Homo sapiens: one gene and its partner. The protein of the gene in region 2 interacts with the protein of the main gene of each other region in a pairwise test. Each region holds a gene or a part of one and is shown on either strand. Other genes may lie near its edges.

What was found. The genes of interacting proteins can lie anywhere in the genome.
Region 1: the proteins of ZDHHC23 (region 2) and GLIS1 interact in binary tests that used the Homo sapiens proteins (3 or more experiments, as listed by UniProt).

Annotation. Positions count from the first base shown.
Region 1 is NC_000001.11:53,729,135-53,736,164, reverse strand, and holds part of GLIS1 (zinc finger protein GLIS1), read left to right. Parts: intron 1-1,961; exon of another isoform or gene 1,962-2,261; intron 2,262-7,030. UniProt on the Homo sapiens protein: Acts both as a repressor and an activator of transcription. Binds to the consensus sequence 5'-GACCACCCAC-3'. By controlling the expression of genes involved in cell differentiation inhibits the lineage commitment of multipotent cells.
Region 2 is NC_000003.12:113,943,255-113,951,041, forward strand, and holds the start of ZDHHC23 (palmitoyltransferase ZDHHC23), read left to right. Parts: upstream 1-4,758; 5' UTR 4,759-4,936; intron 4,937-5,134; exon of another isoform or gene 5,135-5,431; 5' UTR 5,432-5,548; coding exon 5,549-5,709; intron 5,710-7,787. Other genes in the region: GRAMD1C (protein Aster-C), read left to right, coding at 2,144-2,224. UniProt on the Homo sapiens protein: Palmitoyltransferase that could catalyze the addition of palmitate onto various protein substrates and be involved in a variety of cellular processes.

The DNA of each region.
Region 1 (7,030 bases), on a different chromosome or scaffold from region 2:
TCTTTGTACCTTAAGCTGGTCTCTCTGGTGAAGCTTTTTTCCAAGAGGTTTCACAACTTTTCTTCATAGCCTCCCAGTGAGGCTGTTGTGGTGGGATGTATCCCACTCATTTGAAGGGTGAGGAAACTGAGGCCTGAAGGTGGGAAAGTGTTTGGTATGTGTAGGGCAGTGGTTAGGGAAGCCACAGCTCTGGCCTAACCTGGCCTAGGGAGAAAGGGAAGGCTCAGGGTCCTGGGCTTGGAGAGGTTTCCCTGCTGGCCTCTGTGTTGCTATAGGCAAGCTTTTCCTCACAGTGCAGTCACCAAGTGGCCCGAGACAAACCCAGCTTTCCCCCAGTTCTTCAGCGTCCTTAAAAATGCTGCGAGGAAACGGCACCTTCTTACTGCCCCTACTCCCACCGAAATAGTCCCAGACCATGTAACCCTTTGAATATTTGGTGTCTAGCTCCAAGTTCTCAGGCTTATTGGAAACAGACAGAAATACCAATTGAAAAATATGTATTGACTGTGCTGGGAATTGTGAGACCCCACCATCTATGATCTGTGGCACTTGGGGGAATCGATTTTACTCTTCTGAGCCTTTGGTTCCTTCGTTTGTAAATTTACCCTGAGACTTAATTCGCAAGACTGATGAGATCATTAGTGATAAAGAATGTGCAAGGGCCACCTCAGTGCCTGGTTATTTTTAGGATTACTACTGTAACCTGTTTCACATTCTCAACCTCTGGGTTTTCATTTGCGTGAGAGGTAATGGTGCCTACCTTGCAGGGTAAATAAAACAAGAGTTGTAAGAATGCCTTATAAGCTAAAAAGGTAGAAGGAGGCACTTTTATTAATTCGTGCAGGGCCCATGCAAGGGTCAGTGACACTTGAGATAAAGGGGACAGAGTGAGAAGGAAGCAAGGTTACATTTTTAAAATGCTGAATGTGAAGGGTGCTAACTGTGGTGTGCTAGCCAGGGGAGGCTGAGAGGTGCCAAGCTTCAGGTCTTTTGTGGCCACAGCTGCCCAGTGACCGGAGAGAAGACAGTATGGCTCAGCCTGGGGTCAGGTTTCAGATGCTCTGCCGCCTGCCTCAGACAGTCCCTAAGCAGAGGAAGAGAGTGGGTTCTTGAACCTAGTAGTTTATCCATAAATGTCTGGGGCCTGTGTATTTGATCTGGAATCGGGAGGCACTGGGATGGTGTGATGTCATGGACTAACATTGTCATCATTTACAATAAGAATCATGATCTGTTTATGGCAGAGTCCCGTTTATCCAGATTCCAAACAGCTGGAAAAGCCAAATTGCCAGATGCTGCATTTTTCTTTCCTATTATTAAACACCCGACACTCTGCTTTTATAAGTCCTGACAAGGAAAGAAGGTAAACATCTGGGCTTTATGCAGGCGGACAGCTTTGTGGTGATGGCCTGATGACGCTTGTTCTCTGTGCACGGTGCTTTACAGTGTTCAGAGCGTGTTCCCACACATCCTCTTGTCTGCCCTCACGCCAGCTGGGCTCTGCCTGCCTTGGGGGCTCTTGTGAGGGAGCAGATGTAGAAGTCTGTAAAGTGCTGGGCAGATACTGGCTGTTATTAATGTGATTCCCATTTTATAGATGCAGACATTAAGGTTCAGGGATTTGCTCAAAGCTGCAGACAGTAGGTGGCAGTTTCCAGGCTTCCAGCTGCAAATATTTGATTCTGGTTCCACAACTTGTACCTTCTACATGTGTGTGTTGGCGGCCGAGAGCTGGCATTCACACGAAGGCCTTCTGAACGTTCCCAGAGAATTTAAAAATGTCTTTTGCTTTTGGTATTTCTACTGTCTCACATCTTTGGGAATTGGTAACTAGTATCTATGCCATAGTTAGAAAACTTTATAGTTTACCACATGATTCCATTTGTCCAGAGTTGCTGTTCCCACACCAAACCAGATAATGAGGTCACTATTTAATTTACAGTGACTCACTGGGCCCTTTCACTGTGTACTGAGACTGGATGCATCCTTGCAATAAAAAAGAGGTTGATCACGACAAATGTGAACCCCGCCGTTATAAAAACAGCCATCATGGCTGTAAATGCCAAAAAGCAGTCAGTCTTGTAACTTGAAAAAAAAAAAAAAGGAATTGTAGATTGTGCGCATGGACTCGGAGTGGGGGCGGTGGACAGTAAGTCATGATGTTTTGGTGGTACCACCTGGTTGAATTTCTTCATCTGAATAAGAAGCTCCTGTGATGTTCTGGGGAGGCCTTGGAAGGCTAGCGCATCCCTCATAGAAAGGTATGAGTGACTTTTAAAGCATTTCTCCCCTCCGGCTCCGGTGGGCAATTTGCTTGCATTTCATCCATTTTAAAGTGCTGGTCCTGCGATCCGGAAATAATCAGATCCAAATTTTTTCAGTGCATGAAGTTTCAAATAAGGGGGAGAAAAACCTGCTGGCCAAATGTCAGGCTCAGTGAGACAAAGAGAAACAAGTATGTGTGTGGGTAAAAAATGAGATAGGAACATGTTGCGTCTACAGTCATAAGAGTTATGTATCCGACAAATCTTTTATAGACATGTAGCGGAAATATAATTCCCAAAGATTCCCTAAGAATCTCGGGCGGCTAGAATTCCTCTTCCCTTCCTGCCTCTCAAGCTTTCTAGAAGCTAGGACTCTGTGGGCAAAATGGCAAGGGGACCATCACGTGAGATCGTAATTTAATTTAGGCTTAGTTGTTTCTGAGTAGTTTACCTGTAGCGTGCTTAGCTGGACTGAGGTCTGCAGAGCTTCAGAGCTGTGGAATCACATCGATAGTCTATGTTGCTCCATCTGTGATTTAAAAATGTAAATTTCTTTATATGCTATGATTTTTCTTCATCCTTCTTTTTCTGAAAAACAAAAAACAAAAAACAAAATGAACCTCATCTCAGAGTTACTCATCTCCCTGCGTTTCATTTGCGTGAGAAGCTTAGTGAGCCAGCACACTTATTTTTACAGTGCGTTAAAATCCCATTACAGGCATAAGTGCACAATGAATCACTTAAAAAAATATATTCTTATGTTCTTTGTTCTGAATGTTGCATAATTATCATCATTTTCTTCGGTTTTACTTTGTGGAGTTTGGCCAGTATCCTGGAAGAGGGGAGAAACTAAAGTTTGGGACAGGGTTTTCAATCTGTTTTGGATAGGATTAGGGGAAAAAATAACAAACAAATAAACTTTATTGGGAAGTCGACCAGTGACTATCGCTGAGGATAATTTCCCTTCCTTCTCTCAATTGTCTTGGAAAAGAATTCTGTTTTCAACACGATGTGGTAGTATTTCAGCAACCTCACCTTACATATACGGTTATATTCAAAGTTAAATTATAATGTGTGGTTTGTTATTTTTTTTTTTTTAATATAGATTTCCGTTGCAATTATTTTGGACCTAGAGAATTGTGTGGTTTCTTTTGGTGGGGGGTAGTTTATTTTTATATTTAAAGAAACAAAGACATTCAGTTCAAGGGGGAGAAGAAATGAAACAAAGTTTGCAGTGGGCTTTGAAAACTTGGACTGCATTATGCAAAAAGCACAGCTGTAATACCAGGGCCAGGAAAAAAGACCAAACTCCTGAAATATTTGTGCTGCTCGCCTTCACTGTGCTAATGATTCTAGCAGTTTAAAAACGGACTTCTTGTTTATCAGCAGCCACTGCCCAAATTAATAGTTTACAATGAAAAAAAAAAAAAAGCTTTCAGCATTGGAAGCAAAGTCCAGGGACTGACAGCTGAGTTACTGAGTAAGGAAAGCAGAAAAGAGGGGGAAAAGTAGTTTTGTGGCTACTTTGGTCTCCCAAAGCCATATTTATAAGAAACTGAAAGAAAGCCGAAGGCTGGGCTGGGTAGGGGTGGAGAGAATACAACCCTAACCCAGTGGTCTCAGAGTTGAAAGTCACTTAAAGCATGTTTTCTTCTTTTGCCCTTTTTCCCCCTTAAACTCCAAAGGATTATTCCTTCAGTAGGTTTCCGGTGGATCGAGGCGGATCGTGTTAGCATTACGAGCTGTGTTTTTAAAGTTAGCATTTGAGTCAGATGCGCTGAGAAGAGACCTTTAGTCTGTTAACTGAATAACGCATTTCCTGGATGGCCTGAATTTATTTGGTGGTTATGGTTGGGCCTGCCTGGAGCTAACACATGAGCCATTGTGTAGCATCTTTGCAAGTGGGCCGTGCCCTGTGCTTTGAGCCTTGGTTTTCCCATCTGTAAAATGGAGAGCAGTTCAGTTGGATGATCCATAGTCCCTGCCTGCTGATACTCCAGGATTCCACACTGACTGGGCTGGGAAGGTTTGGAAGGATCTGGGGTGTAGGAAGAGGCCACTTTTGTCTCAGACCAGGTTATACACTGGAACTCTTGACTGCTAAAGATGAACACAGAAAGAATGGGGAAGAGGGAGGTCAACTAACCTTTAGTGAGCGGCTGTTCTGTGCCAGGTGAGATGCTTTAGAGACGTGATCACATTTAATTATGCCCAGCAGCCCTAGGAAGAAAGGAGGCACTGTTCTAATTTTAAAGATGGGGGGACTGAGGCTTGGAAAGGCAAAGTGATTTGTCCAAGGTTGTGCATGTAGTAAGCAACAGAGCCTGGAATTTGAACCCAGGTCTGTCTGACAGCAGAGCCAGTACTTTCCTCTGAAAATACACCACTCTCCAGGACCAGCTTCTTAAACCCAGGCGGCTGGGAAGGAGAGGATGCGGCTCTAGAGAGCTGCGCGCCCCCAAGGAAGCCCAAAGGAAGGCAGCAGGAGGCTGCAGGGGGCCCAGACAGCCACATCCCAGAGCACCCCTTTCTCAGTCTCAGCCAACAGGCTGAGGTGCGACTTACAGGGGATACTCTGCCTCCGTAGGGCACTGCTCCTCTCCCCCTGCAGAACTAGGGAAAGGAGAATGTTCCCAGTGACTCAGGATCCTCAGGAATCTGGGGTCTGGAAAAAGACTCTCTGAGGCCATGGAGGGGGCCCCTAGGAGGGACCGCTTCTCAGAAGCAGTGGCAACTCCCGTCCTGACTGGTTATTGCAGGTAGTAGTCCCTGTCTGAGTCTTTCTTGCCATATGGGGAGATTCCTTGCCAAGGCCCCGGTCGTAGTCTCCCCTCTATGGCTTTCAAAGACATCTGTTGGACGAGAATTCCTCAAGATCCCCACCATGCCTGGTTATAGAATACGTGCTTCCCCAAGCATGTTGGCTCAGGGATCTATTAAACAATTATTTCTTGTTAAACACTTGGTGGGATGAAGTAGGGCTTGGGAGGGAGAACAGGCTGGGGATCAGAGTGAACTTGAGAGTTTGCTTGTGAGAAATGGGTCTTTTGTGTCAAATGATGAATGAGCTAGATGACCCCCCCTATGGAAGGTAAAGGTCCCACGGCTGGTTGCATCTGTGGCCTTGCACGTGCATTCATGAGAATGTGTACATTCTCAGGGAGTCATACTGATTCTGAAGATGGACTTGCAGGAGCCGTTCTGGTCCGAGGTGTTTTTGCCTTCCTACGTGCCGCTGTGTCTGAAGGGGAGTGAATGAAGTACAAGGGATGGCCCTGCCTGCCGTACAGCCCAGCCTGTTCCTATTTGTGTCTTTTTAGCAACCAGATTACTCTTTTAGATGTTACCTTTGTTTTTAAATAACAGGTTTGCTAGAAATCAGGCTTTAGCAAGAAACCAGGGAGTACTATAAACCTGACTTGAAAAATACAGATCCCATTTGCTGTTTTAAGCTCTCCGGAGGACTGGAGATTGGGTTTATTTTGGAACGCTGCTGGACTATATGAATTACTTCTCAGAGGGTTGGGTATTTAATACCTAGTAGAAGTTTGTGTAAGAGTTGATGATGTATTTTGCCAACTTTCCAACCCTGTAAATAAATTACACGTGCCGGCAGAGGTTGCCAGGATCCACTGTGTCAGTTGGAGCTTAATTTTTATCCTAAACCACCGAATACTTTTGTCCTAGCAAGCAGAGAAAGTTACGGAGTTTTTTGCTTGTCACTGGGCCCATCCCAAGACGACGGTTTAAAGAGCCTGAGAATAGGCCTCCGCGGAGTCACTGATTTTGACACCGTTTTCGGTGGTTAAGTAGCTTCAGCAGTCTCAAGTCCAACCCTCAAGGCAGAGAATGATAATATAATTTTAAGCATATCGTAAAAATGAAACTCAATCACTTCCACTCCCCAAACCTGTCTCACTCCCCATCTCTCTGGAGAAAACGGCTGTAATTGTGTGTTTAATCTCAAGACTGCCTTTGCATTTTATCTTATTTGAGTGCAAAGCCCAGGTAATATCGTGGCATTTCCAGCGCGAAACAAAATAGGGTTTCTAATTTGGAGACACTATTAAATATTTCATGCTTCAACCAAACTCAATTCTTTTTTCCTATAATAAGTTTAAATATTAATTCTCTGGAATGTCAGATGCCTAAAGCAAAGCATTTAGTGATCTGCAGTTTCAAGTATCTCGAAGAAGGTTTATGAAACAGGATATTTCACTGGGAGGGATGAGTAGTGTGCTTCAGAGATATGTGAATTCAAGGCATCGTCTTCTGATTTATTTTTTAAAGGGAAAAGGTCATAAAATAAGTTGCTTTATGTGCTGATGGATTAAGTGGCTTAGGCTGAAATAACAGCAGGAACTTTACTATTTTTCCCTGTTTTAACAATGCTTTTTGGGGGAGGGGGGTGGGTCTTTTTCCCGCCTGCTTGTCTCCTCCCTCCGTACCCCCCGTCAACCCCAGCCAGATGGCTTTAATTCTAACCAAATCCCACGCTGAGGCCAAATGATTGATCAAACAGTCATTTGTACTTACGGAGCGCTCTTTGTGAGAATATCTCTGTGCTAGGGCTTCTCGTTGAGGCAGGCTCTTCTTTGGGCCTTCAAACGGATGATTTCAAACAGATCGAGCGGCTTGGTGAGGAGGGGTCCGCGGGTGGATGCGGAGCAAAAATCCCAGACCTCAAGTCCGTAGAACTTCTCGCTTAAAACCTCTGTGTTACTTCCCATCCCTGACAGCAGGGGTATCCAAATGTTCTAAGTATA
Region 2 (7,787 bases):
CAGAGCTAAACACTTCTTTCTTGAAATGTATCTAATGTATCTAATCTTGCTTTCTTTAAAACCATAAAAAAATCTTTTTGTGATGTAATTTACATACAATAAAAGTTTTTATTCACAAGGTTGTGCAACCATCATCACTATCTAATTCCAGAGCATTTTCATAACCCCACAAGAAAATCTGTACACATTAGTAGTTAATTCCCATCCCTCACTCCCCCTGACCCCTGGCACCCACTAATCTAATTTCCATTACTATGGGTGTGCCTATTCTGGACATGTTATATACATGGAATAATACAATACGTGGTCTTTTGAGATTGGCTTCTTTCACTTAGAAAAATGTAAAACTAATTTTTGCTAGTTAAAAACATCTCCTTGGCTGGGCACAGTGGCTCACACCTGTAATCCTAGCACTTTGGGAGGCCAAGGCAGGCAGATTGCCTGAGCTCAGAAGTTTGAGACCAGCCTGGGCAACTTGGCGAAACCCCGTCTCTACTAAAATACAAAAAATTAGCCAGGGGTGGTAGCAGGCGCCTGTAGTCCCAGCTACTCGGGAGGCTGAGGCAGGAGAATTGTTTGAACCCAGGAGGCGGAGGTTGCAGTGAGCTGAGATCATGCTACTGCACTCCAGCCTGGGTGAAAGAGCGAGACTCCGTCTCCAAAAAATAAAAATAAATAAAAAATAAAAATATCTCCTCTGCCTGACTTCCTCCTGGCCCAAATGCTCCAGGGCTCTGTGTTAGATTCTCTTTCCTTCTCTATTACTCTCCCTTTAGGTGATCTTATTCACACCCCTAACTTTAAATAACCACACGTTCCAATGACTCCTGTCTTAGTCCATTTGTGCTACTATAACAAAATCCTGGAGACTGGGTAATTTATAAAGAACAGAAATTTATTGCTCACAGTTCTGAGGCTGAGGAGTCCAAGATTAAGGTTCTGGCATGTTTGGTGTCCACCTGGCAGAAGGGACTGAAGGACAAAAAAGGGGACTATTTAGTTCCCTGAAGCTCTTTTATAAGAGCACTAATCCATTCATAGGAGCCGTCATGACCTAATCACCTCCCAGAGGCCACGTCTCTTCATGCTGTTGCATTGGGGATTCAGTTTGAACGTGAATTTTGAAGGGGACACAAATGTTCAGATAGCAGCAACTCCCAAGTCCGTATCTCTCACCTCGACCTGAGCTCTAGACTCATACAGTCACTTGCCTACTTGGCATCTTCACCTGGATGACTAACAGGATTCCCAAACTGATTATGTCCAAAACAGAAGTCAATTTTCCTCTAATCCAAAACCTAATTCTCTAGTGGGTCTCATTTCAGAAAATGATGCTACCATCCACCAGCTGCTCAAGTCAAAAACTTAATAAAATATCTAAGTATATATTTATGTATGTGATTATTTGTTTTATTAATAGTTCTGGATCCCTGACTAGTCTGTAAGCTCCATGAAGGACAGGACAGTGCCTATTTGGTTCTCCATTGTATATCCAGTGCTTAGAACACTGCCCAACATGTGATAGGCAAGCAACAAATATTTGTTGAATGAATACAAAAAAAGAGTAAGACATAATTCCTGCTCTTGAGTTGCACACAATTTTCTTAGAGAAATGAGATGTCCAGGTGTATTGTTAATGACAAAGATTACAAAATTCAGTGTCAAAGTGTTAAGTAGTAAGGATAATGCTTTGGGAGTTTATAGGCAGAATGACTGGGGAAAACTACATGAAGAGTGTGAATATGAGTAAGTTTTAGGTGAAGAACATGAGGATGAGAGCATGCAAAGGCACTGAAGCAAACTTGAGTTGTTTAGGGGATAGTGAGGAGACCACTGCAACTTCAGAAATCTTTTAGGAAAACGAGTCTGTCACTACGCTTAATTTGATTAATGGACCTATTGGGAGGTAGACTATGTAGCAGTAGGAAGAAGTACAATACTCCAGCAAATGGGAAGAACTCTGTAGCAATCATACTGATAGATACCCCAAAGAATCAGGTATTTTGTATTTAACGTTTTATTTGGGCATCAGTATAAACAAAACTATATTAAGTGTCACTGTAAATTTTGGGCATAAAAAACAGAAATTTTCAAATCTGATTAGAAAAATTAATCTGATTTTGAAAATTAACTTTGTTTACAGCTGAAGAGCTCACTCATTATGCTTCAGAAAACGTTTGATCTACTAAATAAGAATAAGACTGGCATGGCTGTTGAAAGCTAGTGATCTGAAGGACTAAAACCGCAGAGATACTTGGAACTTAAAGAAAATACCTGGAAGAAAACCAGACGAATGAAGGATTTTGGCATAGAACATTTCTATGTTTTTTCATTATTGAGATTTCTAATATGAACATTTCTTTCAGTAACATTTATTTGATAATTAGTTTCTGCTGGCCTTAATAATCCATCCTTTCACTTCTTATAGATATTTTTAAGCTGTGAATTTCTTCAGTGAACCATGAAATATATTATAGAACTGAATTTCTCTGATACAAAAAGAAAATGACACACCCTGAATTGAGTGGTATGGTCTCATTTCTACAGTGAAGTCTGATGCTTTGTTAGCACAGAATCCGTACATGTCCAATAGGTCGCTTTTGTAACTGAGATAAGACCAAGAGGATAAACAGGACAATATAAGAAGAAACCTCTATGTCATTACTGATTTTAAAGGTTCTGTTTTCAGGCATATAACATTTCCAGGTTTGTGTACTGTAAAGATTATAATGTCTTCATTTATTTAGCATGCAAATTTAATAGTCAAACTTTTTGAATCTGCATGTTGATGATGATTATCAGAAAGGGTCTTCTGCCATGCTGTATCTTTATGAAAGAAATAGTTGTTTTTTCTTAAGGTAACTATCAGAGGTGGGATTATCTTGCCTCCTCACTTAGAATACCAACAGTCAAAAGGAAGAACCATCCTCTGAGTTTTAAAAACCAGAAGGTTATGTTAAAATCTGGGCATTTAGTGACAGATCAAATGCATACTTGAACTAAGATTGGCTTCAGCTTAGCAGTCTTTCATGGTGGAAGTGACACATCTGGTTGAAAATAATTTGTGTATTTTCAGTAACCATGTATGGCTTCCTTCTTTATGTATGTGTGTGACTTGTTTTGATTGGTAAGTTATAAGCCAGACATAGATTTTAGCTCTTTAATAAAAACTTCAGGGGCACGTATGTCCCAGTACAAGTGTACTGACTATCAAGTTTTAACTCAGATGCAAGCTTTGGCTCTTTCATAAAAAGTTTTTATGCATATGTGTCTCCATACAAGTGGCTCATTAAAATAAGAACTTTGTAAACTGACTTAAAATCAGATATTTTTTCAAGAGTTAGGGAAAGTTGAAGTGTTTTACTGTTTTGTCTCTTGAGCCCTTTCTCTGGGGAAAAAATACATATCCATCTATCTATCTATATATAAACTGTGTATACATTCTTACTGTTTGAACAACTATTGCCTTTAATTAAATGTTTCATTTTTCTCCAGAGTCCCCAAAGCCACATGGCATTATTATAGTCATTTTTGAGATGCCTGTAGAGAATGAAAGTATTGACTCCGTTAGAGGGAAAATGGGTTTCTCTGGGTGAATTCCAACGAAGCATACCTAGGGGTAACAGTGAACCTACCTGGGTTTGTTTTGTTTTGGTAAGGATTTATGTAGTGTCTGGCTGTAAGCAAGAATGAGTGGATTATAAACTTGAAGATTTCTCTGTTAAAGTCACAAAAATGATCGACAAACAATATTTTTGTGATGTTTATTTAAACGTTGTATTTTATAACATACTTCAAGGAAGAGTATCGAAGTAAGTTGCTTTATAAATTAAGACTAAATTCGTATGGATGCAGAATTCAATTAATAAAATTTGAGCCTGTTACGTAAATTGAATATTAATAAAATTGAAAATTTCTGAGTTGTAGTTTTTCTTCTTTTTCTACTTAAAAACAAAACTAGAAAGCCTGCGGTAGTGAAACGTGTACATGGGCCCACACTCTTTAAAGAAATTTTGTGCAATAATAAAACCCAAAAAGGACTCTCATCTCAGGGCAGTTTCATCTCAAATACACAGACGACTGGAACAAAAGTACTAGCGAGGCCTGCTGGTCCAATGTAAAGGCTGCTAGCCAGAAATCATGAAACGAACAGGTTGCTAAATGAACAGATCCGGCAGCAGTGATGGGCCTTTAAGAGAAGGTCAGCGAAACTGGGGGAGGTACTTGGATAACATTTTGCGGTGGAAAGCTCCCTCACCGCCTGTTGCCGGAGTCTGAATGAAGGCTGGCGGCTCCACGGTCTCACGTAGTTCGGAAATCCTCCGGGTTCCCGGGTTTCCCGTATTTCCGTCTCCGCACCTCGTCCGCACCCCGGGGCTCCGGAGGCTGTCCCACCGGCGCGCCGCCCGCAGGCACCGGCGGCGCCCGGCTGCCGCCTCTGGGGCGGGGCGGGGCGTGGCGTGGCGGGGCAGGCCGGAGGTGCGGGACCCACCTCCTGCCCCTGCCTCCTGGACGCGCTCTCGGGAGCCGATTTTCCCCTTCCCGGCGCCAGGGCCGCGGGCCAGGAGGAGGAGCCTCGCCCGCGGGCACCGCGGGGAGGCGGGCGGCGCACGTGCGGACAGGCGGGGAACCCCGGCGCCGGGGGCGGGGCACCCGGAAGCGCGCGTGGACCTGGCGCACCGAGCCGGGCGGGCGGAGGGGCGGTTGGGACGGCGCGGGGAGGCGGGCGCGCCGCCCGGGCCGCGGCGGGCTGTGGTCACAGGTGGGCGGCTGCGGCGAGGGAGCGGCCGAGCGGAGCCCGGGTCCCGGAGACTCCTGCCGTCACGCCCGGGGCTCCGCGTAGCAGAGATCGGGAGACGCGTCTGTGCCTCCGGGGAAGCCGACCCATCTCCCCTCCGCCTCTTTGGCTGCAGTTGCACCTCCGGCCAGAGGGCAGGTAACTTCCCTTCCAAGGTCATTCTCCTGGCGGGGTGGTGCGCGAGGCCCGCCCACGTCCTCCGGATTGGCGGGGGCGGGAGAGGCGCACCCTGCAAGGGGCCCGACCAGTTGGGCTGGACCGCGACCCCTGAGCACTGCCAGGGAGCCTGGTGTGTCAGCCGCTGCTAGCGGGCATATGCTTCGCCTTTCCCTATAGCCCCGAGGCTGAGTTCCCACCAGCGCCCAGGCTTGGAGCGGAGACCGCTCGGCCCTCCCAGCCTGCACCCGCAGGTGAGCGCAACCGCCCGCGCCCCGGCTGTCCCGGACGCGTGGTCGGCTGTCGCCATAGGAACGGCTGGTGCCCAGACGGCGCCTGCCCAGGCTGGGAAGGGGCGGTGAAGGCAGCTCAGACCTCCAAGAACCCTGGAGCCCCCTGTGTGGCCAGGCGGAGCCACAGAAGCCTGATGAAAACGGGACCCCCTCCCCCTCTCTCTTCTCATTTTTGATTGCTCAGGCGTTGGAGGTTAAGCAGAGAGAGAGAGGCGTGGACCTATTTACGAGATGTAAGTTGTGTTCTTTCCACCTTTACCTTCTGAGGGCTTCTTACGCCTCATGGTGACAGGTGCAAATCATGACACAGAAGGGCAGTATGAAGCCTGTGAAGAAAAAGAAAACCGAAGAACCTGAATTGGAGCCCCTGTGCTGCTGCGAGTACATAGATCGGAATGGGGAAAAGAACCACGTGGCTACTTGTTTGTGTGATTGTCAAGATCTGGATGAAGGGTGTGATCGGTAAGAACAGAGCATTTCTTGACGCTGGCCCCATCACCCTTCTGAGAACTGCCATGTGTACTTTCAACCTAGCCACCCAGAATGCTAGAATTTGCTCTTGATTCTATTTCCAAGCATCTAAAATGAGAGTTGGCTTCTGTGTCAAGTGTGAGGATTTTAGAAAGATGGATTACGCAGTAGTGCACAGCTGTCTGTCTGCTCTGTTTTATAGGATATTATTTTTCGTTTAAAGAGAGATGAGGGAGAGAACAGGCAGTTTAAAGGGATAGTAGGCAAGTTAGTATAAAATAAAATGCAAGCCAGCAGAATCTGTAAGTTTAAAATGAACACAATAGTTCCAGAAAGTTCCTGCCTTCTCAGAGGTCTCAGCATTTAGAGACTGACTACTTGGGACTGGGTGGCACCTGACCACAGAGGGCCTTGTGGGTTGAAATTTCATTTTCCTGCTGTTAGTACTGGTCTTGCCCCTTGTTTCTGGGGAGGAACTCCAGCCAGAAGGCATGTATCTCCCCTGGATTCACAGTTTTCAGTGCGACCAGCAACACTCTTGATTGATCATACTGTATTTGGCTTTTATTTTCCAAGTGATGGAAATTACTATCCAAAAAGAGAATTTTTAACATCACTGAAAAAATTTGGTGTCGGACAGTGAATAATCTGGTTTTAATCCATTTTCTGAGTAATTATATATTTAAAAATCACTGTCAATGGAAGTCATAATGTGGGAAGGATAGGGATGTTGGAAACTTGCTTTTCCCATTAATAATTATTTCTGGTTAAAAAAGTCATTGCAACTGCCAATTTGTTGACTTAGAACTTGATACATTAATACAGCCATGAAAAGCATTCCCTGGGGTCTGCAGTCTAGTACCAGCCTTGACTATTAAAAACCCAGTGAACCCTTTGTCGTTCTTACTTGACAGTGTACTGTGTAGTCTTTTTTATGGATGTCTTTGAATATAGGTTCTTTAGATTTAGTCTGAAATCTATACTGAGAAAATAGAGCACTTTGCACTAATGAATGGAGAAATGATGCTGTTTCCATAACCACCATCACTCAAGACCGCAGCTCTTCCATTAACCTTGCTAACTCTTCCTCCCTCCTAGCCCTGGAGACCTTGGCTGTCCCCTGAGGCATCTCCTCTGCTCTCTCTGTACCCCTCTCCTCTGTGTTTCCACCGTGCCTGCTGCTCTGTATGATTCCCAATTAGTTATCTCTAAGTTCTAGTCTTACCTTTAAAAATTGTCTAAAATCAAAGTTACCTTTCCTTAAACTCTACCTTTTCTTACTAGCCTGTCTTAATTTGTTCAGGCTGCTATGATAAAATAAATACCTGAGACTGGGTAATTTGTAAACAATATACATCTATTGCTCACAGTTCTAGAGGCTCAGAAATCCAAGATCAAGGCACTGGCAGATTCAGTGTCTGGTGAGGGCCCTTTTCCTCATAGATGACACCTTCTTGGTGTGTCATGACATGGCAGAAGGGGTGAATAAGCTCATAGGGCTCTATTATAAGGGCACAAGTCTCATTCATGAGGGCTGTGCCTTCATGACCTAATCACCTCCTTAAGGTCTCACCTCTGAATACTATTGCATTGGGAATGAGGTTTCAACATAATGAACTTTGGAGGGACACAGATACTTCCTGGCTCCCTAAAATTTATGTCCTTCTCACATGCAAAATACACTGATTTCATCCTAATAGCCCCAAAAGTCTTAGCTCATCCCAGTGTCAATTCAGAAGTCTAAGTCCAGAGTCTGGTCTGAATATCATCATCCAAATCAGATATGGATGAGTTTCAAGATACGATTCATCCTGAGACAAGTTCTCCTCCACATGTGAGCCTGTGAAATCAAACAAGTTAGGTGCTTCCACAATACGATGGTAGGACATGCATAGAATAGACATTCCCATTCCAAAAGGGAACAACAGGAAGAAAGGAGTGTTACTGACAGGTCCTAACCCAGTGGGGCAAACAATGTTAAGCCTTAATAAGGCTTGAGAATAATCTTGGACTTGATGTCCTGCCTTCTGGACACACTGGGTTGGCGGTTGGGCCCCCAAGGCTCTGGG